3 linked regions of the Homo sapiens genome follow. The protein of the gene in region 3 interacts with the protein of the main gene of each other region in a pairwise test. Each region holds a gene or a part of one and is shown on either strand. Other genes may lie near its edges.

Evidence for each region.
Region 1: the proteins of SLC23A1 (region 3) and KRTAP4-11 interact in binary tests that used the Homo sapiens proteins (3 or more experiments, as listed by UniProt).
Region 2: the proteins of SLC23A1 (region 3) and GRHPR interact in a two-hybrid assay, tested with the Homo sapiens proteins (one study listed by IntAct).

What each region holds. Positions count from the first base shown.
Region 1 is NC_000017.11:41,115,801-41,124,013, reverse strand, and holds KRTAP4-11 (keratin-associated protein 4-11), read left to right. Parts: upstream 1-5,640; 5' UTR 5,641-5,698; coding exon 5,699-6,286; 3' UTR 6,287-6,833; downstream 6,834-8,213. Other genes in the region: KRTAP4-12 (keratin-associated protein 4-12), read left to right, coding at 1-497. UniProt on the Homo sapiens protein: In the hair cortex, hair keratin intermediate filaments are embedded in an interfilamentous matrix, consisting of hair keratin-associated proteins (KRTAP), which are essential for the formation of a rigid and resistant hair shaft through their extensive disulfide bond cross-linking with abundant cysteine residues of hair keratins.
Region 2 is NC_000009.12:37,432,031-37,438,370, forward strand, and holds the end of GRHPR (glyoxylate reductase/hydroxypyruvate reductase), read left to right. Parts: coding exon 1-108; intron 109-2,070; exon of another isoform or gene 2,071-2,756; intron 2,757-2,807; coding exon of another isoform or gene 2,808-2,887; intron 2,888-4,630; coding exon 4,631-4,752; 3' UTR 4,753-4,960; downstream 4,961-6,340. UniProt on the Homo sapiens protein: Enzyme with hydroxy-pyruvate reductase, glyoxylate reductase and D-glycerate dehydrogenase enzymatic activities. Reduces hydroxypyruvate to D-glycerate, glyoxylate to glycolate, oxidizes D-glycerate to hydroxypyruvate.
Region 3 is NC_000005.10:139,372,308-139,380,852, reverse strand, and holds part of SLC23A1 (solute carrier family 23 member 1), read left to right. Parts: coding exon 1-55; intron 56-220; coding exon 221-288; coding exon of another isoform or gene 289-300; intron 301-463; coding exon 464-645; intron 646-776; coding exon 777-897; intron 898-1,018; coding exon 1,019-1,175; intron 1,176-1,498; coding exon 1,499-1,646; intron 1,647-2,168; coding exon 2,169-2,274; intron 2,275-2,501; coding exon 2,502-2,631; intron 2,632-2,734; coding exon 2,735-2,878; intron 2,879-3,355; coding exon 3,356-3,451; intron 3,452-8,545.

The DNA.
Region 1 (8,213 bases), on a different chromosome or scaffold from region 3:
GCCCCAGCTGCTGTGTGTCCAGCTGCTGCAGGCCCCAGTGCTGCCAGTCTGTGTGCTGTCAGCCCACCTGCTGCCGCCCCAGCTGCTGTCAGACCACCTGCTGTAGGACCACCTGCTGCCGCCCCAGCTGCTGTGTGTCCAGCTGCTGCAGACCCCAGTGCTGCCAGTCTGTGTGCTGCCAGCCCACCTGCTGCCGCCCCAGCTGCTGTCAGACCACCTGCTGCAGGACCACTTGCTGCCGCCCCAGCTGCTGTGTGTCCAGCTGCTGCAGACCCCAGTGCTGCCAGTCTGTGTGCTGCCAGCCCACCTGCTGCCGCCCCAGCTGCTGCATCTCCAGCAGCTGCTGCCCCTCTTGCTGTGAATCCAGCTGCTGCCGCCCCTGCTGCTGCCTGCGTCCAGTCTGTGGCCGAGTCTCCTGCCACACCACTTGCTATCGCCCAACCTGTGTCATCTCCACCTGCCCCCGCCCCTTGTGCTGTGCCTCCTCTTGCTGCTAAATCTCTGCTGTGAACACACCACTTCCTTATTACGTCCTTTCCTACAGATGAAGGCTCTCATTGCAAACATGCGGACTGTTCAAGAGAATTGATCTGGGTCCCATAAGCAAACCTCATCCTTAGAAATTCTGTATTTGCATTCTACCTTTTGTCCAAACTCCCTTCCTTCCAAAGGAATTCATTGACAATCTCCTAATAAATTGACAAATTGTCCTCCAACATCCTCCCACCTCTTTGACTTCAGGACATTTATTCATCATGCCTAAGGAATTTGAAGATTGCCTCCATCATTTGTAGGGCCACAGATCTTAAAGCCTCCAACCTTGAAGTCCAGTGAAGTCTCTCTCTTAAAGTCTTTTGCAAACATTTTTGTACCTTGTTATTTCCATGTACCAAAATAAACCTCTATTCTATTGGCACTGAAAATTGAATATGATTCTTATTCTCTTTTTAAAAAGGGTTTTATATTTAGGTCCTGGGTGATTACATTTAACTACACCTGTAGGGCTCACAGCACAGATTAGTCAACCTTCTAACAGAGGTCAACTGACATCGATCACTGCCTAGTTTTTTTCTAGAAAAGTCTTTTCAGGCTTAGGCAAATCAATTAGTCATTTTGTATTCTTTAGACAAAAAGAGTGAAGCTGAAGTCATGAAATATCCATGAATATAACAACAGGGGAAACGTTTTGAAAGATTGATCACAACTCATCATCTTTTAAAAAATAATTTCAACTTTTATTTTAGAATCAAAGAGTACATATTCGTATTTGTTACATGTTGTGTGATGCTGAGGTTTGGGCTACAAATGATTCTGTCACCAGGTACTGAGCAGTGGGTCATTTTTAGCCCTTCCTCTCTCCCTCTCTCCCCCCTTTTTGGAGTCCCCAATTGTTCTCATCTTTGTGTCCATGTGTATCCAATGTTTAGCTCCCATTTGTAAGTGACAACATGCAATATTTGGTTTTCTGTTCCTGGAAAAATTTGCTTAAGATAATGTCCTCCAGCCACATCCATGTTGCTGCAAAGGACAAAATTTCATTCTTTTTTATGGCTGTGTAGTATTCCATGGTGTGAAAATGTCACATGTTCTTTATCCAATGCACTGTTGATGGGCACCTAGACTGATTCCATGTCTTTACTATTGTGCACAGAGCTGTGATCTTTTAAAACACTGTATTTCAATTTCTTTTTTTTTCCAGTAAAAGCAGCTATTAGGTGGTTTAGCAAAGTCCATGTATTTTCTACTGAGTCATGTGTAATGAATCCTCAACACAAACACAGTGGATCTCCTTCATTCTGACTGGCAGAGTTTCAATGGGGAGTTCATGCTGCCATGTAGAGAGGGCCACCTTCACGGCCAGGCAGGTGATGGAAATGAAGGAAGCAGGCCTAGTGAAAACTCACAGGTATGCTGGAGACTGATTTTTTTTCTTTTCGTCCAAAGTCATGCCCTTTTTTTAGGATGAAACTATAAAGACCCACATTTCTCCCCAACTAGGGATGCCTCTAATGGGTCATCTCATCTCCAGAACTCCCTATAGGTTCATCTGAGACTTCCACGGAGATTGCCCTGCAGTTTGATTTATCCCAGTGTCAAACTTGATCTTTCTCTCACTTTCCCTTCCTTTCCCTTCCCTTCCCTTCCCTTCCCTTCCCTTCCCTTCCCTTCCCTTCCCTTCCCTTCCCTTTCCCTCCCCTTCCCCTTCCCTTTCCCTTTCCCCTCCCCTCCCTTTCCCCTCCCCTGCCCTCCCCAGTGTTAATCCCAAGAGCATGCTTCAATAAACCTCCTGCATATTGCTCTCCATCTCAGTGACTGCTTCCTGGGGAACCCAGCCTGTCCCCCAAAACAATTTGAAATTCATGATAGCTAATTTGAGAGCTCAAATGACTGACTGAAATGTACTTTTAATATTTTAGTTCCTGAAAGAAATAAGAATGTAAACATAATAGCAGAAAATATATTTAACAGAATATGTAGAAAAATTATGAATTTTATATAAATCACATTTATTATTTTCTAAGGATGTTTAGATCATTTATACACAAATATATGCTCTTTAAACATTTAGACAATACAAAAGAATGTGACAATGTGAACAAAAGTAAGTTTCCCATCATGATCTTTGCCAATCCCATTCAATACCTAATGTTGCAAATTGAGATACATCCTCATTAAATGCATGCATAAAACATGTATGTATTTATTTGAAAACTTGGCTTTCGTTGCACATCTCTTGTTCTGACATTTATTCAAACATTATTTTATGTCCTTCCGGAAATGTTAACATTTTCCTTCACAAAGGCTTGGCAGATTTATTTACATATTTTTCTATTTACTCTTGAGAACTGTGAGTACATGCTTCTTTTTTTTTTTATTATACTTTAAGTTCTAGGGTACATGTGCACAACGTGCAGGTTTGTTACATATGTATACATGTGCCATGTTGGTGTGCTGCACCCATTAACTCGTCATTTACATTAGGTATTTCTCCTAATGCTATCCCTCCTCCCTCCCCCCACCCCACGACAGGCCCCAGTGTGTGATTTTTCTCCATTAAATTTTAGAGAGAATTATTGCTAGTGTATAAAAAGTCTATGGATTAGTATAAGTTCATATTTTATCTGATCTCGCGATTCACACTAATACCCAGCTGACTCTACAGGATTTTACAGGTGTGCAATCATGGTGGCCAAGTGCCTCCAGCCTCAGGCTTGTCCCTGGGGTTCGTCCCCAGCTGCCCACAGTGGGGGCCTTACCATTAACACAAACACTGTTGGGATTTTCTACCTTTCCTGTCTTACTTTCACCGTTTCCTCACTTGTGCTTCCTGGGATCATCCCCCAAATAAATTATGTGCACTCAGGTCTTTTTCTCAAGGTTTGCATTGGGTAGAATTTAAGCTAAGACAACAGATTATCAGCAAACATTTTTGGCTGACTGATACGAAACAGGAAATAATAGTTATTTCAATCAACAAGAGTAAAACGAGGAAGTCAGGAGGTGAAGGAGAACCAGTGCTACCATCTGGCGTTTACTTCCTTCCTGTCTTTTTACTGTGTGAATATAGGCATGCACGTTCAACACTGTATTCTTGGTTATCTATAAACAAGTCTCATTCTATAAATTGAATCTTGACTTCCGCAGTTTCCACGTATGTTATTTATCGGGTGACATGTTACCTATCACACAAATGAGTTTAGTCTTCCTGAAATGAAATTATGATTTCTTTGTTTGGGATGTTTTCCTCCCTTTTATCCAGAAGTCAAAAGATATATACATTTTTTAAAGGACCTTACATGCCTCTATGTCATCAAAAAAACCTTCATTCACTCAACAAACATTTACCACCAGTGTTCTCTGTGCTGAGTATCATGGTAACGAGAATAAATGCCATAGCGCAAGCCTTCAGGGTATTTGCATTGCACGTGGTGGAAAGACAGAAGTAAATGACTATGATACAGGAGAATGTATAAATTATGAGCACAAGGCAGGAAATCATGATACATGAATGGGGTAGCTTAGCAGGAAAGATATTATTGAGGAGGAAATATTTTAACTGGGTCTTGACACATGAGTAGGAGTTTGCAGAGTGGACAAAAAAAGATGAAACATTCCAAGAAGATGAAGCAGTTTCAGCAAGCTTAGCAAATTGTATTCTTTACGGCTTTCTTGGCTACACTAAGACATATTAGGCTTACTTTCTCTTTAACCTTGGACAAGTTGTTTGTTTGTTTGTTTTAAGTTTTTAATGCTTCTTTTGAGTATTCCCCTAAAAGACTAATAAGAATATAAACTAGTTCATAAGGTTCTATTAAAGCGTGAAAATGAAACAAATGTAAGATATTTGGTACAATGCCTGCTACATAGTCAATACTTCACAAGTAATATACATACCATGAGGGTGTATGGAACTTATCCACATATTATACATTTCTTATTTTAGTTGTTTAATGAAAATAATTGTAATTCTTTTCATTTCTGCCAAACTGTTTCCTATCCATGTGTCTTATGCAAGTACCTGCAAGAAAAAGTTGAGGGTTTATCTGTTCTACACCCAGAGTACCCAATAGAACATCTTGGATGCATGTTATTGAAGGCTTAATAATTCTAAATATTCTTTATATATAACAAATGCTTTTGTAAATGAAAAATCCATCATGCAATTTTGATGATCAAAGATTAATCAGGCTGGGTGTTGGGGGCTCATGCCTGCAATCCCAACACTTTGGGAAGCCAAGGCAGGTGGATCACGGGGTCAAGAGATCGAGACCATCTTGGCCAACATGGTGAAACCCTGTCTCTACTAAAAATACAAAAGTAAGCTGGGTGTGATGGCGCAAACCACCTTACTCGGGAGGCTGAGGCAAAAGAATCGTTTGAACCCAGGAGGTGGAGGTTGCAGTGAGCAGAGATCATGCCACTGTACTCCAGCCTGGCGACAGATTGAGAATCTGTCAAAAAAAAAAAAAAAGATAAATCAAAACTTCCTACTCATAATGCATATACTGTAAGACATACAGCAAAATGTGTTTTTACCCTTTAAAGGCAGTGAGTCATGGGTAAGTACTTTCGCTGGAGGCTGTGGAATAAGATCTGACAGAGTTTAGAACTTCTTGGGATCTGACCATCTGCCCGACCATCCGAGATGCACACATGGGATCAGAGTCATCCTCATTACAGATGGGACATCCTTCCCCAAATGAGTGCTTCCTTCTAATTCCTTCCCAACATTTCACCTGACCAGGACATTCTTTGACAACAAAAGATACATTCACATTATAAAAATCATCCCCCATGATTTGCAGACAGCAATCTGCAGGTAGGAGGGAGAGTCACATTTAAAAACAAAATGTCAGAGAGTCCTGTGACCAGTGCTTTGTAAAAGACACTGCATAGACCAGGGACAAAGGTGACTCCCCACTAATGAAGAAATATGACATGCATTTCCAATGGAAACACAGGAGCACAGCAGGAAAAGGAAATGGGTTATTTTCTCTGTTTTGGAGTATTTAACTGGAAACACAATGATGTAATTACATGATTAATTTTTCCAGTAGGTAAATAATAACAAGGAAATAATGATGTGGTGGCAATGGGCCTTCAGGAGGGTATAAAGGGACTACAGGCCCAGGAGACTTCCAAACACAAGAACTTCACTCTCCTAGAAACCCAACTAGATCCTTCACCCTCTGACACCATGGTAAACTCCTGTTGTGGCTCCGTGTGCTCTCACCAAGGCTGTGGCCGAGACCTCTGCCAGGAGACCTGCTGCCGCCCCAGCTGCTGTGAGACCACCTGCTGCAGGACCACCTACTGTCGCCCCAGCTGCTGTGTGTCCAGCTGCTGCAGGCCCCAGTGCTGCCAGTCTGTGTGCTGCCAGCCCACCTGCTGCCGCCCCAGATGCTGCATCTCCAGCTGCTGTCGCCCCAGCTGCTGTGTGTCCAGCTGCTGCAAGCCCCAGTGCTGCCAGTCTATGTGCTGCCAGCCCACTTGCTGCCGCCCCAGATGCTGCATCTCCAGCTGCTGTCGCCCCAGCTGCTGTGTGTCCAGCTGCTGCAGACCCCAGTGCTGCCAGTCTGTGTGCTGCCAGCCCACCTGCTGCCACCCCAGCTGCAGCATCTCCAGCTGCTGCCGCCCCTCTTGCTGTGAATCCAGCTGCTGCCGCCCCTGCTGCTGCCTGCGTCCAGTCTGTGGCCGAGTCTCCTGCCACACCACTTGCTATCGCCCAACCTGTGTCATCTCCAGCTGCCCCCGCCCCTTGTGCTGTGCCTCCTCTTGCTGCTGAGCCCACTGCCCTGGCTCATCTCTCCCTTCACTGCAGGCCCACAGTTGTAGACCATTCTTCTGTGCTGACTATTAGGACACATGGAGTGGGATTGATGTCATTCAGCAGGGTGGACTTCATGTTTCCAATGAGCCCATCACCATCCCACTGACTCTGTGAGAACATTCTGGTTCATTTTAAACTCCCTCCCTTGCTTTCTTTCTCTTCCAGTCATGGCACCAAATATGAAATAATTTGTAATCCACTAGCTAAGAAATTATTCCAATCCTCTAAATTCCTCATTTTTTAAATCGTTTTGAGCCTACAGAATATCCTTCCCAGTGAGGTACACATTATCTCCATTTCAAACATATTATTTGTCTGTCAGCCTTTCAGTCATTCTTTTCTCTTGGAAAGGTAGGAGGCTGCCCCTCCCATGCTCTCCTGCTTTCTCCCTGTTCTCTCTTTGTCTCTGTTTGTTCAAGTTTGCCAGAATTTTTCTATTTTATTGGTTCTTTATCTTTATTGTGTTCACAAAATATATTGTATTAAACTTTTCATTTAGAAATCTTTTATTGTTTTTTGCATTTTTTTGTGATAATTTTCACTGAGTTTACTGATTCATGGGGGTGAGGTGGGAATGCAGTAGAAGGGGATTCTCAAAGCATGATTCCAAAGTAAGACTTCAGGGATGAACTCATAGTGCCAAACTGCTCCAATGTCACGCATAAACTAAAATAAAATAGAAGCTTTTGATTGTTTCAATTTGATATATGGAATGCTTTGGGATAGGTAAAGCCCCAGTATTGTTGTTTGTAAGTTCATCCATGATTTTAGAACTTATGATATCATGGTAATACTCCTCACTCTTCTGTGTCAAATTTAAAAGGCACATCTCATCCTACTGCATTCCATCTTGATTCAAATCAGTTAAGGCAGACTCCAAATGTTATATAAGGGAATTTTGTTATTTTGTTGTCGGTGGACCAGTTCAGGTTCTTGAATTTGCTGTGCAAAAGAATTTGAGAGCAAATCCAAAGTAAGAGTAAGCGAAGAAATTTGTTGCAAAGCAAAAGTACTCTTTGAGAGGCAGAGTGGGGTGCTCAGTGGGAGAGACAGCAGCTAGTGCTGTAAGAGGAATTCCTTTTATGGGAGCTATACGTACATAATCATAAAATACTGGTGAGGTCAAGTATGCAAAGGCAGACCTGCGGTTGGCACATGTGCTCAGGATCCACGTGGTCTAACACCCATCGCATGTATCATTAGCATATGAAATCTCCGCCTTGGGGTGTTTTTCTTGTTGTGGTTGTTTTTACTATTAAAATGAGGAAATGGTTACTATAAGCTGAACCTTGATCCTAGCTGTGCATGCAGGACCCCAGAGAAGTCCCTGCCCACCCTCCCAAACACCCCACCCCAGGAAGGAATTTGTAGTTAGGAGTTTCTTGGGCTTTTGGTGCAAATTGGCTAGAGATTGGGGAAGCTGCATCAGGAATAAAGGGCTTTTGCTCTCTTTCCCAGGTTGTACTAGGTATCAGGAACTTGTAACCCTCTGGTGGGTCTGCTTCGATTCTGTAGGACCCCTTATCTTGTGAAAGAGTTAGGCACTGATGCACAAAGGTTCAAGTGAAAAGAGCTTGCTGTGAAAGGATCCTGCTGGGCTTCACACAGGGGACAAGTCAGTATGGCCTTGTGAACCCCCAAAATCGGAGACAGGTCTCAGTTTATTTAGAAAGTTTATTTTGCCAAGGTTGGGGATGTACACCTGTGACACAGCCTCAGGAGGTTCTGAAGACATGTGCCCAAAGTGGTCAGAGCACAGCTTGGTTTTATACATTTTAGGGAGACATGAGACATCAATCAACATATGTAAGATGAACAGTGGTTCCGTCCGGAAAAGGCGGGACAAGTCTAAGCGGGGAGGGGCTTCCAGGTCATAGGTAGA
Region 2 (6,340 bases), on a different chromosome or scaffold from region 3:
ACCTGTACCAGGCCTTGGCCAGTGGTAAGATTGCAGCTGCTGGACTGGATGTGACGAGCCCAGAACCACTGCCTACAAACCACCCTCTCCTGACCCTGAAGAACTGTGGTAAGAACTGCACTTTCTGATGCAAACTCCCTGCTGCCCTGCAGGACCAGTGTTTTTGAGGGGGTCCCAAGGGGCCGGGTGTGGAGCTAGTGTGAGCAGGTGTTGAACCCAAAGGGACACACCAGGGATCGTAAATGTTTATGTTGTCAGTGACATGGGTGTATGACAGGAGCAGTCCTCTTGCGCATGCTCTGCTGGGTCTCTGTCCCTAAAGGAACAGAATGTAGGTGTGAGTGGATTTGTTTAAAAAAAAAGAGTGGGCCAGGCGTGGTGGCTCATGCCTGTAATCCCAGCACTTTGGGAGGCTGAGGTGGGTGGATCACGAGGTCAGGGGTTCGAGACCAACCTGGCCGATATGGTGAAACCCCATCTCTACTAAAAATACAAAAATTAGCCAGGTATGGTGGTGCATGCCTATAGTCCCAGCTGTTTGGGAGGCTGAGGCAGAAGAATCGCTTGAACCCAGGAGGCACAGGTTGCAGTAGGCCGAGATTGTGCCACTGCACTCCAGCCTGGGTGGCAGAGTGAGACTCCATCTCCAAAACAACAACAACAACAAAGTGGGCTGACTACATGTCTCCATGTGTTACACCACAGTGACTCGTGTAAAACCTGTTACTATAAATTGCTATTACCAGTTTAGCTGTGAAAAATTAAAAGTGTAATGACAATGCCAATATAACTCGTGCCAGTTTTTCAAGCTGTTGTTTCACAACAAAGCCCCCTTCTCTCTTCTGCTTTGTGGGGCTGGGGCCAGGCCTCTGCACACCCCATTTCTGCTGTGCCAGCTGCACTGGCAGGCCTTGTCAGCGTGGGTGTGGAAGGGCCTGCTCCCTCCTGCCCTCCCTTCCTGTCTTTGGGGGAGTGGCAGCAGCACTTCTTCATCTAGCAGCACCAGTTCCTTCCCATAGTGGCTGGGGAATCCAGTTTGCAGTTTTTCCAACACTTGGTGAACCAGCCCCATTGAGCCCTGCTCAGAGACAAGAGCAACAGCCAGTCAGTGCCCGTGCCACCGAAGTCTGAGTTGCAGCACCAGAAGTGCCTCTGGCAGTTGCTACCTCTGTGCTACCACAGTGCAGTGGTTCTCACATTTTTTTTTTTTTTTTTTTTTTTGAGACAGAGTCTCGCTCTGTCGCCCAGGCTGGAGTGCAGTGGTGCAATCTGAACTCACTGCAACCCCTGCCTCCTGGGTTCAAGCGATTCTCCTGCCTCAGCTTCCCGAGTAGCTGGGATTACAGGCGTGTACCACCAGGCCCAGCCAATTTTTGTATTTTTAGTAGAGATGGGGTTTGTCCATGTTGGCCAGGCTGGTCTCGAATTCCTGACCTCAGATGGTCCACCTGCCTCTGCCTCCCAAAGTGCTGGGATTACAGGCATGAGTGTCCGGCCAATTCTCATACTTTTGAGTTCGTCAGAATCACCTGGAGGAGTGACTGATCAAACACAGGTTGCTAGCCCCATCCCGAGAGTTTCTATTTCAGCAGGTCTGGGGTGGGGTCTGACAGAGTGTGCTCCTCACGGCTCCCAGATGCCACTGATGCTGCTGGTCCAGGGACCACACTTTGTGGTTTGGGTTTTTGTTACCTGCTCAGTGAGTTAACAACTTGATGCGTAGTTAATGATTCTTTATATTAAGATCTGTTCAGGTAGCTGGTGGAGTTTATGCCTCCAGACTAAGAGTGATCAGGGCCTTAGGTTGTCCGGGCCAGTCTCTGCCCTTAATTTGGATTCTGGAATGGAAACCTAAACAAAAGGTCTTCAGCTGCCTTCCCCAGTGAATGCTCCCATTATTGCAGCCCTTGGAAACTCTCCCGTCCCTCCCCCACCCCAGCCTGCAAGGAGCACTGGGTGTGATGTCAGGGCTGTCGCCCACAGCCAGGAAAACTGCCCTCCCACCCCCACCCTAGGTCCTGGAATTCAGCTCACGGCCTGGGGACTGCTTCAAAAGGCAGGTCTTGGTCTGAGGAGAGGGCAGTCAGGGCATGAAGCTGCAGCCGCCACCGCTGCTTCTACAAAATCTAAGCACTGGGCTGCAGCCATGTCCTACTGCCAGCAGGAAGGGAAGGATGCAATCATTTGTGATGTAAAAAGACCATGCAGCTCCAAGCAACACAGCTGATGACCCCAGTGATCCCTATGGGGGGAGCACGGATTGAGGCTGCCAAATGGAGACATTAACTGGAACTGCCTGTGCCTTGGGGGAAGGGCCAGCGGCCCCTGTGGGGAACAATTCAAGCTGGACTTTTCCTGCTTCCACTATAGTATGGAGAATGTCAAGGGGTCAGACTGTGTAGACCAATTGGGGCCATGCAGGAATGCATGCAGAAATACCCAGATCTTTGTCCCCAAGAAGGTGAGGCAGAGGTAGAGGAAAAGCCCGCAGAACATGTAGAAGTAGCAGCTCCCACTGAGGCCACTGCAACCAAAGAGGAGGAGGGGTCAAGTTAATGAAGGCCATAGGACTCCAGTCCTTCCACCCCTTCAGAGTGACACGGACCTTTTGCAAAATGCCATTTAGTCACCCTCCAACAAAGTGTCTTTCCCTCTGTTGTCCTGTAAACTGTAATGTACGAAATAACATATTTTGATGATCGGGGTCTTGGCCTCTTGACATATACGCTAAAAAAATGGGGGTTGTTTTATATGTGTCCTGTGTAAACCTGTCGGCAAATATAGCCACCACTTTTGAATTCTCCTAGATGGCCCTGAATTTTGCCACTTTGAAATAATGTGCTACTCAATCTCAGCAACCAAAAACCATTATCCAGGAATGTTTCTTGTGAGTGAGCGGATTTATTCTGATTCATTATATGTCTGAAACGTTGGGGTGGGGCTGATTAGGGTGGCTCACGCCTATAATCCCAGCACTTTAGGAGGCCAAGGCGGGAGGATCACCTAAGACCAAGAGTTCGAATCTAGCCTGGGCAACATAGTGAAACCCCATCCCTATAAAAAATAAAAAATTAGCCATGTGTAATGGTATGTACCTCTAGTCCTAGCTGCTCAGGAGGCTGAAGTGGGAGGATCACTTGAGCCTAGGAGGTTGAGGCTGTAGTAAGCTGACTATGCCATGGCACTCCAGCCTGGGCAACAAAGCAAGACCCTGTCTCAAAAACTCTTCTCTACTAGAAGAGGCCAAATAGTCAGATGCAAATTTCTCCAAACCTATCCTGACCTTGAGTATGTAAAGGGGTACTATACTTCATTCCTGACATATTTTGGTTTCCATGTTGGCATTCAGCTCCGGGTTTTCTATTTGGATGGTGAAAATTTGGACCCTGCCATTCACAGTCCCTTCCTAAGTGTAGGGAAAGGCTGGTTTTTGCTGTTCATTGTTATTCTGAAAGCTCTGGTTTGGGGTCCATGTTCATGCTGGCTCTCAGTTTGATCAGATGCAATGTTCTTGAGAGGAGGGGACCTAATTGTTACCAGAGAGGAGAAGAAACTCTGTGAATTAAGTACTGAATTATGGCTGGGCGCAGTGGCTCACACCTGTAATCGCAGCCCTTTGGGAGGCTAAGACAGGAGAATCACTTGAGGCCAGGAGTTCAAGACCAGCCTGGGCAACAAAGACCCTATTACAATAATGATAAAATTTAAAGAAGAAAATGTACTCAATTAAAAGGAAACATGATTTCTACCTGGAAAAAACCCAAAAGCAGTTTTATGGGGTTTATTTGGTAAAGATGATGTCTCGCTATGTGGTCCAGGCTGGCCTCGAACTCTTGGGCTCAAGCGAACCTTGCATCTCGGCATCTGGAGTAGGTGGGACTACAGGAATATGCCACTGCACCCAGCTGACGGTTCTTTGGGGGCAAGTAAGTTCACTTGCTCTGGGGTGGGATCAGAGATAACTGTGCTGTTCAGCATTTCATTTTGGAGTTATTTCTGTAGATCAGAAACCTTGTGGTCATGTGGCATCATTTTCAAGGGCACATGGTACAGGTGGCCAGTGCTAAACTCCTATGCGTTCACCATTTTTTTGTTTGAGACAGAGTCTCCCTCTGTCATCCAGGCTAGAGTGCAATGGTGCAATCTCAGCTTATTGCAACCTCTGCCTCCCAGGCCCAAACAATCCTTCTGCCTCAACCTCCCAAGTAGCGGGGACTATAGGTGTGGGCCACTACGCCTGGCTAAATTTTTGTATTTTTTGTAGAGACGGGGTTTTGCCATGTTGCCCAGGCTGGTCTCAAACTCCTCAGCTCAAGTTATCTGCCTGCCTTGGCCTCTCAAAGTGCTGGGATTACAGGCATGAGCCACTGCGCCCAGCCCTAGAATACAAATCTTTCATCACATTGTGACTGGGTTTTAGTAGCCTGGAGGCCCTTCACTCTGTTAGTCTGAACCTCAGCTCTGGGGGAGTGTCAAGCTTAGTGAAGGTGGGAGAGAAGGCAAAGCATGGAACCATGAGGTAGTCTCTCTTTATTCTTCTTACCGGCAAACCCAAGCCATGAAAACAGCCCAGCTGAAGGCTGCTGAACCACCCTTCTTATCTCCCTCTCTCTCTCTCTCTCCTTTCCAGTGATTCTGCCCCACATTGGCAGTGCCACCCACAGAACCCGCAACACCATGTCCTTGTTGGCAGCTAACAACTTGCTGGCTGGCCTGAGAGGGGAGCCGATGCCTAGTGAACTCAAGCTGTAGCCAAACAGTAGAGATGGAGGGCCGGGAAGCAAACCGTGCCCTGGTATTGTCAGACACACCCAGGCTTGATTTGGATCCACAGGCAGAGCCAAGGGAAGGTGTGATTCTCTGAGGAAAGAGTGATTCTGATATATGTACTTGTCACATTGGTGTTGGACACATTTGCGCCAAAAGTATGGTAATTCTATTATTAAATAATTCTCTGAGAGACCGTCTTGGCCTGTAAATGGGGAAGCTAACAAGTGGATATGGCTGGGCATGGTGACGCACCCCTATAGTCCCAGCAACTCAGGAGGCTGAGCGGGAAGGATCCTTTGAGGCCAGTTCAAGGCTGCAGTGTGCTATAACCACTCTTTTTAAATCGCCACTACACTTAACCTGGGCAATGTAGCAAGATACCGTTTCCTGCAGTGTGCTATGATCACTCTTTAAATCACCACTACACTTAACCTGGGCAATGTAGCAAGACACCGTTTCAAAAAAAACTTTAAAAATACAAAGAGCATGTTTCAAAGTCACAGCATCCAATGATCTGCCTGGCTCTGCTTCCCACCCCAGCCCTCAGCCCTGGGCATTTTCCTTATTGGAACGTGTCCAAACCACCTTACCCCTCATCTTCTCTGCCCAGATTCCTTCACTTGTCCCTCACCAAGGACGGGACAAACAGAACCCAGTTGTGACCATGGCACTTGAATCTTGATACCTAGACCATCAGGAAAATTAAGGAGCACTTCCAGAAAAGGAGTTAACTGGAAGAAATGAGAACTAGGTAAGGACGTAACTCTTATTTTGGTCAGAACGATTAGAGGTAGGTGGGTTTAATTTTAAAATTAGTTTCAGCACCTACACATATTGTTCCCTTTGCCCATTCTGTCCCCCCAGCCCCTCCCTGCCCCCAGGTGGATTTTTTTTTTTTTTAATCACCACCTTACCCACTTCTCTCCAAGGTCAGGCCACAGCACTGCCATTGCCAATGCCTTGCTCTGTGCTCAAGGAATCAGCTTCCAGCTCTTCCCAGCAGCCAAGCCAAACTGGCAGATGGAGTTTCCAACTTGGGAGGCAGGTCCAGGGAGCAGCACAAGATTACGCAGGCCCTCAGAGAGCAACTGGGTAGACTGAAAAGCAAAATCTCATGCATGTGCGTAGCTCAAAGACAGAAAAGGCGGGGGAAGGCAGAAGGGAATGATTTGAGAGGAACGACCAATTAACTGTTAATAGAAGGTTTGGTTTAAAACAAAGTACTAGTCAAAGAAGGGCTGGCAAAGAGATATTACCCTCTTTGGTTTCAACCTTAATAACGTAAAGAAAAAGAACACATATTTAGAGGCATGAATATGACAAATTTTTTATTTCAAAAATCTCAAGTTGTAACCAGCATAGCACCACTGACATGGATGCCTTGATAGAACTCCTTGATAGAACTTTATGATCTGTTCACCAGAAAAGATTCTACATGATCACGCCAGACTATAATTAAGGCTAACCAATCAAAATTCAGGTACCCAAAACCAGTTATAATCCAGGTAGAAACTACAGATCATAGGAACCCTGGGACTGGTTTTCCAGGGAACCCTGGAATTATTTTTTA
Region 3 (8,545 bases):
CTGGTTCCAGCCAAAGCCATACTGGCTCTGGAGAGATGGAAATGCCCCCCGGAAGGTGGGTACACTTCTGGGGTCTGCACTGGGGAAAAGGGGAGGCCCAGAGACCTGGAGGTCTGAGCAACTGTCCCGGGTCAACACCAGGGTGCAGCCATGGCAGCATCTTCTCTCCCTCTCTGTCTCTGTACCTGGTCCGTGTGTGTATCCCTGACTCTACCCCCAGAGGAGATCTACGGTAACTGGAGTCTGCCCCTGAACACCTCTCATATTTGGCACCCACGGATACGGGAGGTGGGTTTGCATGTAAGCATAGAAGAGGCCGGGTCCTGAGGAGGGGCTATATGGGAGTGAGGGTGGCCGCTGAGTTTGGGGATTTGAGGAGGTGGTCCAGGAGCTTTGTTCCTGCTAGCAGCAGCCAGGTCATGACCTTTACATGGTGACTTACGGCTGATGTTTGCCCTTCCAGGTCCAGGGTGCAATCATGGTGTCCAGCGTGGTGGAGGTGGTGATTGGCCTGCTGGGGCTGCCTGGGGCCCTGCTCAACTACATTGGGCCTCTCACAGTCACCCCCACTGTCTCCCTCATTGGCCTTTCTGTCTTCCAAGCTGCTGGCGACCGAGCTGGCTCCCACTGGGGCATCTCAGCTTGGTGAGCAGGCACCAGGCCTGATCCCTGCCCAGCCCCAGCACCCTACCCTCTTCATGTCCTTGGTCCTTCTTCCCGGCTCCTGGCCCCAGCCTGGCCTCCCATCCACTTCCTGATTGTGCCTCTGCCCCCAGCTCCATTCTCCTGATCATCCTCTTCTCCCAGTACCTGCGCAACCTCACCTTCCTGCTGCCTGTCTACCGCTGGGGCAAGGGCCTCACTCTCCTCCGCATCCAGATCTTCAAAATGTTTCCTGTGAGGACCTGGCAGGCGGCTGGGGCTGGGACTATGGCCAGGGCTTGGGCTGAGGTGGGAGCAGGTTAGCCTGGACAGAGACCTCCAGTGCCTTCAGTGCCCCCTCACCCCCCTCCTTCAGATCATGCTGGCCATCATGACCGTGTGGCTGCTCTGCTATGTCCTGACCTTGACAGACGTGCTGCCCACAGACCCAAAAGCCTATGGCTTCCAGGCACGAACCGATGCCCGTGGTGACATCATGGCTATTGCACCCTGGATCCGCATCCCCTACCCCTGTGAGCAACACCCCTTGGGCCCCTCTGCCCCCAACTGAGACCACCTATGAGACAGACTCCTGGTGACCCCAATCCAGCAGGTGACACACCTAGCATTAGCCGCACATTTATAGTGCGCCCAGCAGAGTGGTGTTTTACTTAGACAAAGCTTCAGTCCCACTTCCTGGCTCTGAGTGACTCAAATAAGCTCCCACAACTGTATAGCTCCCATCCCAGCCTGAGGTCTCCTGATCTGCTCTTGCTCCTTCCAGCACTGCCCTGTCTATTCCTAACCATCACAGTCTCCTCACTGTAGCCACCATCCTGTCTCCCTCCGAGCACAGGTCAGTGGGGCCTGCCCACGGTGACTGCGGCTGCTGTCCTGGGAATGTTCAGCGCCACTCTGGCAGGCATCATTGAGTCCATCGGAGATTACTACGCCTGTGCCCGCCTGGCTGGTGCACCACCCCCTCCAGTACATGCTATCAACAGGTAGCCTACCTGCCCTCCTCAGTATCTGATCTCCTCAGGCGCCACCCAGGAAGCACACACAGGAACGGGGTGGAGGCCCAGGGGGTAGGCTTAGGCAAGTCGGGAACACGCTCCAGACCTCATTCTCCTTGTTTGTGCGATGGGGGTGCCCTCTCATCACCCCTCTGTCTTTGCTGGGAGTAGCTGAGAAGATGGTGGAGTCCAAAGGGAACCACCGTCATTGACAGCCCTCCATGTGCCCGGCTCTGACTGTGCATTCTTATGCAATCTTTGAAGCATTTTGTGAGACGGGCACCGGTATTTATCCCAGGAGGAAATTGAAGGCCAGAATTACCCACAGGAGTAAGTGCCAGGGCACTAGGACTAGCTCTGGAGCCTGAGCATTCTGGCCTGTAGTAGGGAGTGCTACAGCTGATAGCTGCAGCCCCCACAGCCCCAGAGGACGGCAGCTTGCTAAGATGATGGGGGAACACAGACTGGTGCAGAGGCTGGACCAAGCCCCGACTCTCCCTTTCCTTACAGGGGCATCTTCACCGAAGGCATTTGCTGCATCATCGCGGGGCTATTGGGCACGGGCAACGGGTCCACCTCGTCCAGTCCCAACATTGGCGTCCTGGGAATTACCAAGGTGTCGCGACGAGCCAGAGCCAAATCCTGCCCTAATTCCGTGGGCCGCAGGCCCCGCCCCAACTCGGTCCCCACTTTGGTTTAGCCCCACCCTGTCTTTGAGAGGCCTCGCCCCCGCATCAAGCCCCAGCCGGTTTATGCCTCGCTCTTATAACAGGCCCCGCCCCTGGAACTAACCCCGCCCCAGCCTCGTCCCCAGGTCTAGCTTCCCCGCTGGCTCCCCGGCAGGTGGGCAGCCGGCGCGTGGTGCAGTATGGTGCGGCTATCATGCTGGTCCTGGGCACCATCGGCAAGTTCACGGCCCTCTTCGCCTCGCTCCCTGACCCCATCCTGGGGGGCATGTTCTGCACTCTCTTTGGTGAGTGTCTGGCGCGGGCCACGGGTCGCGGTGCGGGTCGCCGAGTGGGACTCACCTGGATTACGCGTGTGCGGCGCCTCCAGCCGTTCTCTTGCGCCCTTAGGCATGATTACAGCTGTGGGGCTGTCCAACCTGCAATTTGTGGACATGAACTCCTCTCGCAACCTCTTCGTGCTGGGATTTTCCATGTTCTTCGGGCTCACGCTGCCCAATTACCTGGAGTCCAACCCTGGCGCCATCAATACAGGTGCCTCCAGCTGTTTACTGTCTCCAAAGGCGGGGTGGGCCCAAAATTTTGAGCACAGCCCCCTCCCTCAAAGGCTCCACACAGCTACAGCCACAAATCGTACCCAACTCTGGGTGTCAACCAGCAGCTGAGAGCTTGGGTCACAGCTGTCCTTTACTAAGACACTTCCTGTGGACAGATATTGACCTTTACATGTGCTTATTTAATTTTCAAAACAGCTCCATTTATCTACATTTATCATTTCTCCATTATCATTTCAACTTTACAGATGAGGAAGATGAGGCTCAGTGATTTGTCCCAGGTGAACAACTAGCAACTGGCAGAATTGGGACTTGAACCCAGAGATAGGAAAGACAGAGATAGGTTTGAGACAGGGCTTTGTACTGTTCCTTTGCCATAGCTGCACAAGAGGAAGTCCCTCAACTCTGCTCTCCAGATTGGGCCATGACACCCATTGGCCCTTGGCCTATTCCACAGGCATTCTTGAAGTGGATCAGATTCTGATTGTGCTGCTGACCACGGAGATGTTTGTGGGCGGGTGCCTTGCTTTCATACTTGACAACACAGTGCCAGGTATGGTTCGGTCCTGGGAGGGGAATGAAGAACTAGGCTGGACTCATGCACTCCAACAGATGGCCTCTGAGCTGGAGCTGTGTGGTTAGGTCCCATGCAATGCAGGCCCTGCAGGGAGCATCAGGAATAGATGGGCTGGTGGAGTGCTCACTGGCTGGAGGGAGAGAATGAGGCACAGACATGCCTCAGAGGTCTTGAAGAGGATGGGGCCGGAAGAGTCACTGCTGGGTCCTGTGAATCCTTTCCTCTCCACTTTTTCCATTTCTTTCCTTTTTTTTTTTCCGAGATGGAGTCTCGCCCTGTCACCCAGGCTGGAGTGCAGTGGTGCGATCTCAGCTCACTGCAACCTCCACTTCCCGGAGGGTTCAAGTGATTCTCCTGTCTCCTGAGTAGCTGGGACTACAGGTGGCTGCCACCACGCCCAGCTAATTTTCATATTTTTGGTAGAGATGGGGTTTCACCATATTGGGCAGGCTGGTCTTGAACTCCTGACCTCAAGTGATACGCTCGCCTCAACCTCCCAAAGTGCTGGATTACAGGCATGAGCCACTGCACCTGGCCTCCTCTCCATTTCTTAATAGCCACTGGGCTGAGGGATGTCTTTGCTTTCTTCAGAGTAGGACAGAGATAAATGCAGCATCAGTTTGTTGGCAAAATCCATCCACTCCAAATATGTCAGCAGCCTGCCACAATGGCGACTAGAAGAGCCACTAACATTTCCCTTTGGTACCAGAGCTTTTTGCAAAGATCGTGGAGGATACTTTGTGGGGCCCGCATAAAGATGCCAGTAAATATATAAAATAAATGTCACCAGGTGCTCTGATAACAAACAGTTAACATTTAGCAAACATATACTATGGGTAAGGCAGAGCTAAGTGTCTTACTTCATCCTCAAAAACCACAAAGTCATAAAGTCACAAAATTAAAACATCACGGCCGAGCATGGTGGCTCATGCCTGTAATCCCATCACTTTGGGAGGCTAAGGCGGGTGGATCACGAGGTCAGGAGTTTGAGACAAGCCTGGCCAACATGGTGAAACCCCATCTCTACTAAAAATGCAAAAATTAGCTGGGTGTGGTGGTGTGTGCCTGTAATCCCAGCTTCTCGGGAGGCTGAGGCAGGAGAATTGCTTGAACCTGGGAGGCGAAGGTTGCGGTGGGCCGAGATCGTGCCATTGCACTCCAGCCTGGGTGACAGGGTGAGACTCCATCTCAAAAAAAAAATTAAAACATCGCAAATCTGGGATGTATATTTTAATTGAGACAGGGTCTCAGACTATCACCCAGACTGGAGTGTAGTGGCACAATCATAGCTCACTACAGCCTCAAACTCCTGGGCTTATGTGACCCTCCTGCCTCAGCCTCCCAAATAATTGGGACTACCGGTGCACAGGTGCATGCCACCATGCCCGGCTAATTTTTGAATTTTTTGTAGAGACGGGGTCTTACTTTATTGCCAAGGTTGGTCTTGAACTCCTGGGCTCAAGTGATCCTCCCATCTCAGCCTCTCAAAGTACTGGGATTATAGGTGTGAGCCACCACACCTGTCCTCAATTTTTTTTTTTTGAGATGGAGTCTTGCTCTTGTCACCCAGGCTGGAGCACAATGGCGTGATCTCGGCTCACTGCCACCTCCGCCTCCTGAGCTCAACCGATTCTCTTGCCTCAGCCTCCCAAGTAGCTGGGATTACAGGTGTGCACCACCACACCCAGCTAATTTTTGTATTTTTAGTAGAGACAGGGTTTCACTATGTTGGCCAGGGTAGTCTCAAACTCCTGACCTCAGGTGATCCGCCCACCTTGGCCTCCCAAAGTGCTAGGATTACAGGCGTGAGCCACCACACCTAGCCTCTATTTTTAAATTAAGATGGGGGTCTATGTTGCCCAGGCTGGAGTGCAGTGGTTATTCACAGGTGTGATCATAGCATACTACAGCCTCAAACTCCTGGACTCAAGCAATCCTTCTGTCTCGGCCTCCTGAAGAGCTGAGAGTACAGGTGCATGCTATATACCATCTGGCTAAATCTGGGATTTTTAACAACATCCATCTGACGCAGTCAATGGCCTGTGTCCCATCCACTGCACCATACTGCCTCTGCTGGAGGGTTTCAGGGGACCTGGGCTGCAGGACTGGGGAAGGCTCCATGGAGATGGGAGTTAATGACTGCATCAGTATAGGGACATAAGGGATGGTAGTAGCAAGATGATGGGCCTCCATTTTGTCACTTACCAGCCTGATCACAGCCACAGGTCCTGTCTGCCTCCCTCTCTCTCAAGATCCAAGTGTTCATGTTCACATAACATAGGTGTCAGAGGCTGTCTCTGAACAGCTGGTGGGTTGGGGCTGGGGAGGACAGAGGAGGGCCAGGGTTCCCCGTAGGATTTTAGGCAGAATCAAAGGAAGGTGCTCTTGGTAGCAGCTGTCCCTTCGATGGATGGGTGGCTATTTGAACATGGTACCCCTGCCCATTTAGAGGATGCTAGACTGGGGGCTGGAACAGACCATCCTATGGGCCTGAGACAGTCAAGTGGCAGCCTCAATGCCTAGGGAATATGAGGAGATGGAGAGCATCTGGGTAGGCATCTGTACATGAAGAGGCTTCTTTGTGACTTGGGTGGCTAGTTTAAGCTATCCAGTCATCCTTAACAACAGCTGCAGAACTGCCTGAGTCCCTTATACCCCACATTTCAACCCACCTGAGCATCACAACTGTCCCTGCCAGGAATCATCCTGTGTGTCATGCCACATAAGCTCAGCAGTCTTCAGTATCCACTGAGGAACCTAAAGCTCAGGGGGGTTGTCACTTGCCTAAGGTCACACAACCTGGATTCAAACTAAGGTCTAGCTGGCTCAAAACCCTGTCCTTAACCATGGAATAGCAAAAGCCTTTTCCAGCCCTTAACTTCCTGCTGGGGATGGGCCATTTTGCATTTGTTTTTTTTGTTTGTTTGTTTGTTTTGTTTTTGAGACGGAGTCTCGCTCTGTCGCCCAGGCTGGAGTGCAGTGGCGCAATCTTGGCTGTGCCTCCCAGGTTCACACCATTCTCCTGCCTCAGCCTCCCGAGTAGCTGGGACTACCGGTGCCCGCCACCACGCCTGGCTAATTTTTTGTATTTTTAGTAGACACAGGGTGCTCTTTGTCTTTACCTATCCAGAGCCCAACCTTAGAGGGCAGTCCGTTTAGTTCAGCACATGCTGCTAGAGCTTACCAGCTTGGCCCTGAATCAGACACTGAGGAGGATATGCCAAAAAGTGTAAGTCAGTAACAATTTGTTTAGAGGAGCTCCTGGCACAAGATAGGTGGTAAAACTAGATTTAAGCAAGCAATGAAGTCAAGGAAGCCGGGCTGGAGTTATTGGGAGGGTTTACTGATGAGGGAGAGTAGGTGAGGCCTAGGAAAAAGGAGGGGGCTTGGAGAAGTACAGAAGGCACTGAAGGTTGGGATGTAGTGGGCAGGCTGACTGGTCTGCTAGAGGGAGCTCTGGGCTGGCTGCCATGTGTGTCTTGGCAGTGGTGCGAGGTAATCGGACACCAGAAACATAGTCCTACGCCACACCTATGGCTCATCCCACTCTACTGTGCCCACTGTGTGTGCCCTTTGTACAGCCAAGCCCAATCAAGGTTTCTCTTCCAGACTGTGTGTGCCCTTTGTAGAGCCAAGCCCAAACAGTGTCTCTTCCAGGTAGTCTTCCCTAGGGACTCCACCTTCCCTCAGTGCCCTCTCCTGTGAGATTTTGGAACATAACTTGGTTTGTGCTACTCATGGGTTTGTTCTCAGCCTGGGCTGCCAGCAAGTGGAAATTCCCACTCCTGCTAGATTTATAGTATTTCAGTCTTTGTCGATCCCAGCCCTCTTGTGAAAACCTGAGATCTCATGTGACCCTGCCCCACCTGAGGGAGAATTCCTAGTTGTAAAAATTACTAGCCCGGCTCAGTGGCTCACACCTATAATCCCAGAACTTTGCAAGGCCAAGGCGGGCTGATCACTTGAGGTCAGGAGTTCGACACCAGTGCCTGGCCAACATGGTGAAACCTCATCTCTATTAAAATTACAGTAATTAGCCGGGCGTGGTGGGTCACACCTGTAATCCCAGCTACTCGGGAGGCTGAGGCAGGAGAATCGCTTGCATCTGGGAGGCAGAGGTTGCAGTGAACCGAGATCAACCCACTGTACTCCATCCTGGGCAACAGAGCAAGACTCTGTCTCAAAAACAACAACAACAACAAAAAAAACACAACACAAAAAAACAAATTATTTGGTGTATCCCTACCTCCAAAGATTTTATTTAGCTTGACTTTCTGAAGTTTGTATTATAAAAATGAGTTTTTCACATATGGAATCATAATATGAAATATTAACACTGATTATAGTGTTTCAAAATATGCCTCCCTTACCCCCAGAACGCAATCTGGACTTGATTTGGTCCCCATGGGCCTAACACACATTACCACATACTCACAGATTTAGGTTCACAATTACTTAACTTTTTGTCCCTTTCTTCATCTTAAAATTTTGTATAGGCCGGGCACAGTGGCTCACGCTTATAATCCCAGCACTTTGGGAGGCCAAGCCAGGCAGATCACAAGGTCAGGAGTTCAAGACCAGCCTGACCAACATAGTGACACCCCGTCTCTACTAAAAATACAAAAATTAGCTGGGCATGGTGGTGCATGCCTGTAATCCCAGCTACTAAGGAGACTGAGGCAGGATAATCGCTTAAACCCGGGAGGAGGAGGTGGCAGTGAGCCGAGATCGTGCCAGTGCACTCCAGCCTGGGCAACAGAGCGAGACTGTCTCAAAAAAATAAATAAATAAAATAAAATAAAATAAAAATTTGTACAATGGTGTCTATACATCTCCCAGGGGTATGTTTTCAAGAAACAAGATAATGAAATTAAAGCACTTAGCACAGAGCCTGGCACACTGTAGTTACACAATAAATACTACTATAACTAGTATCCTTTAGTGTTCCTTAGAGCTCTGGCCAAGTTAGGAGCTCAGAAACCATAGATTCAGCCACGTTTTAGGACCAAATGATAGTTAAGGAAGATACTTGATTCCAGAAGTCTGCCTTAGGACTGGGTTATGGGAAGT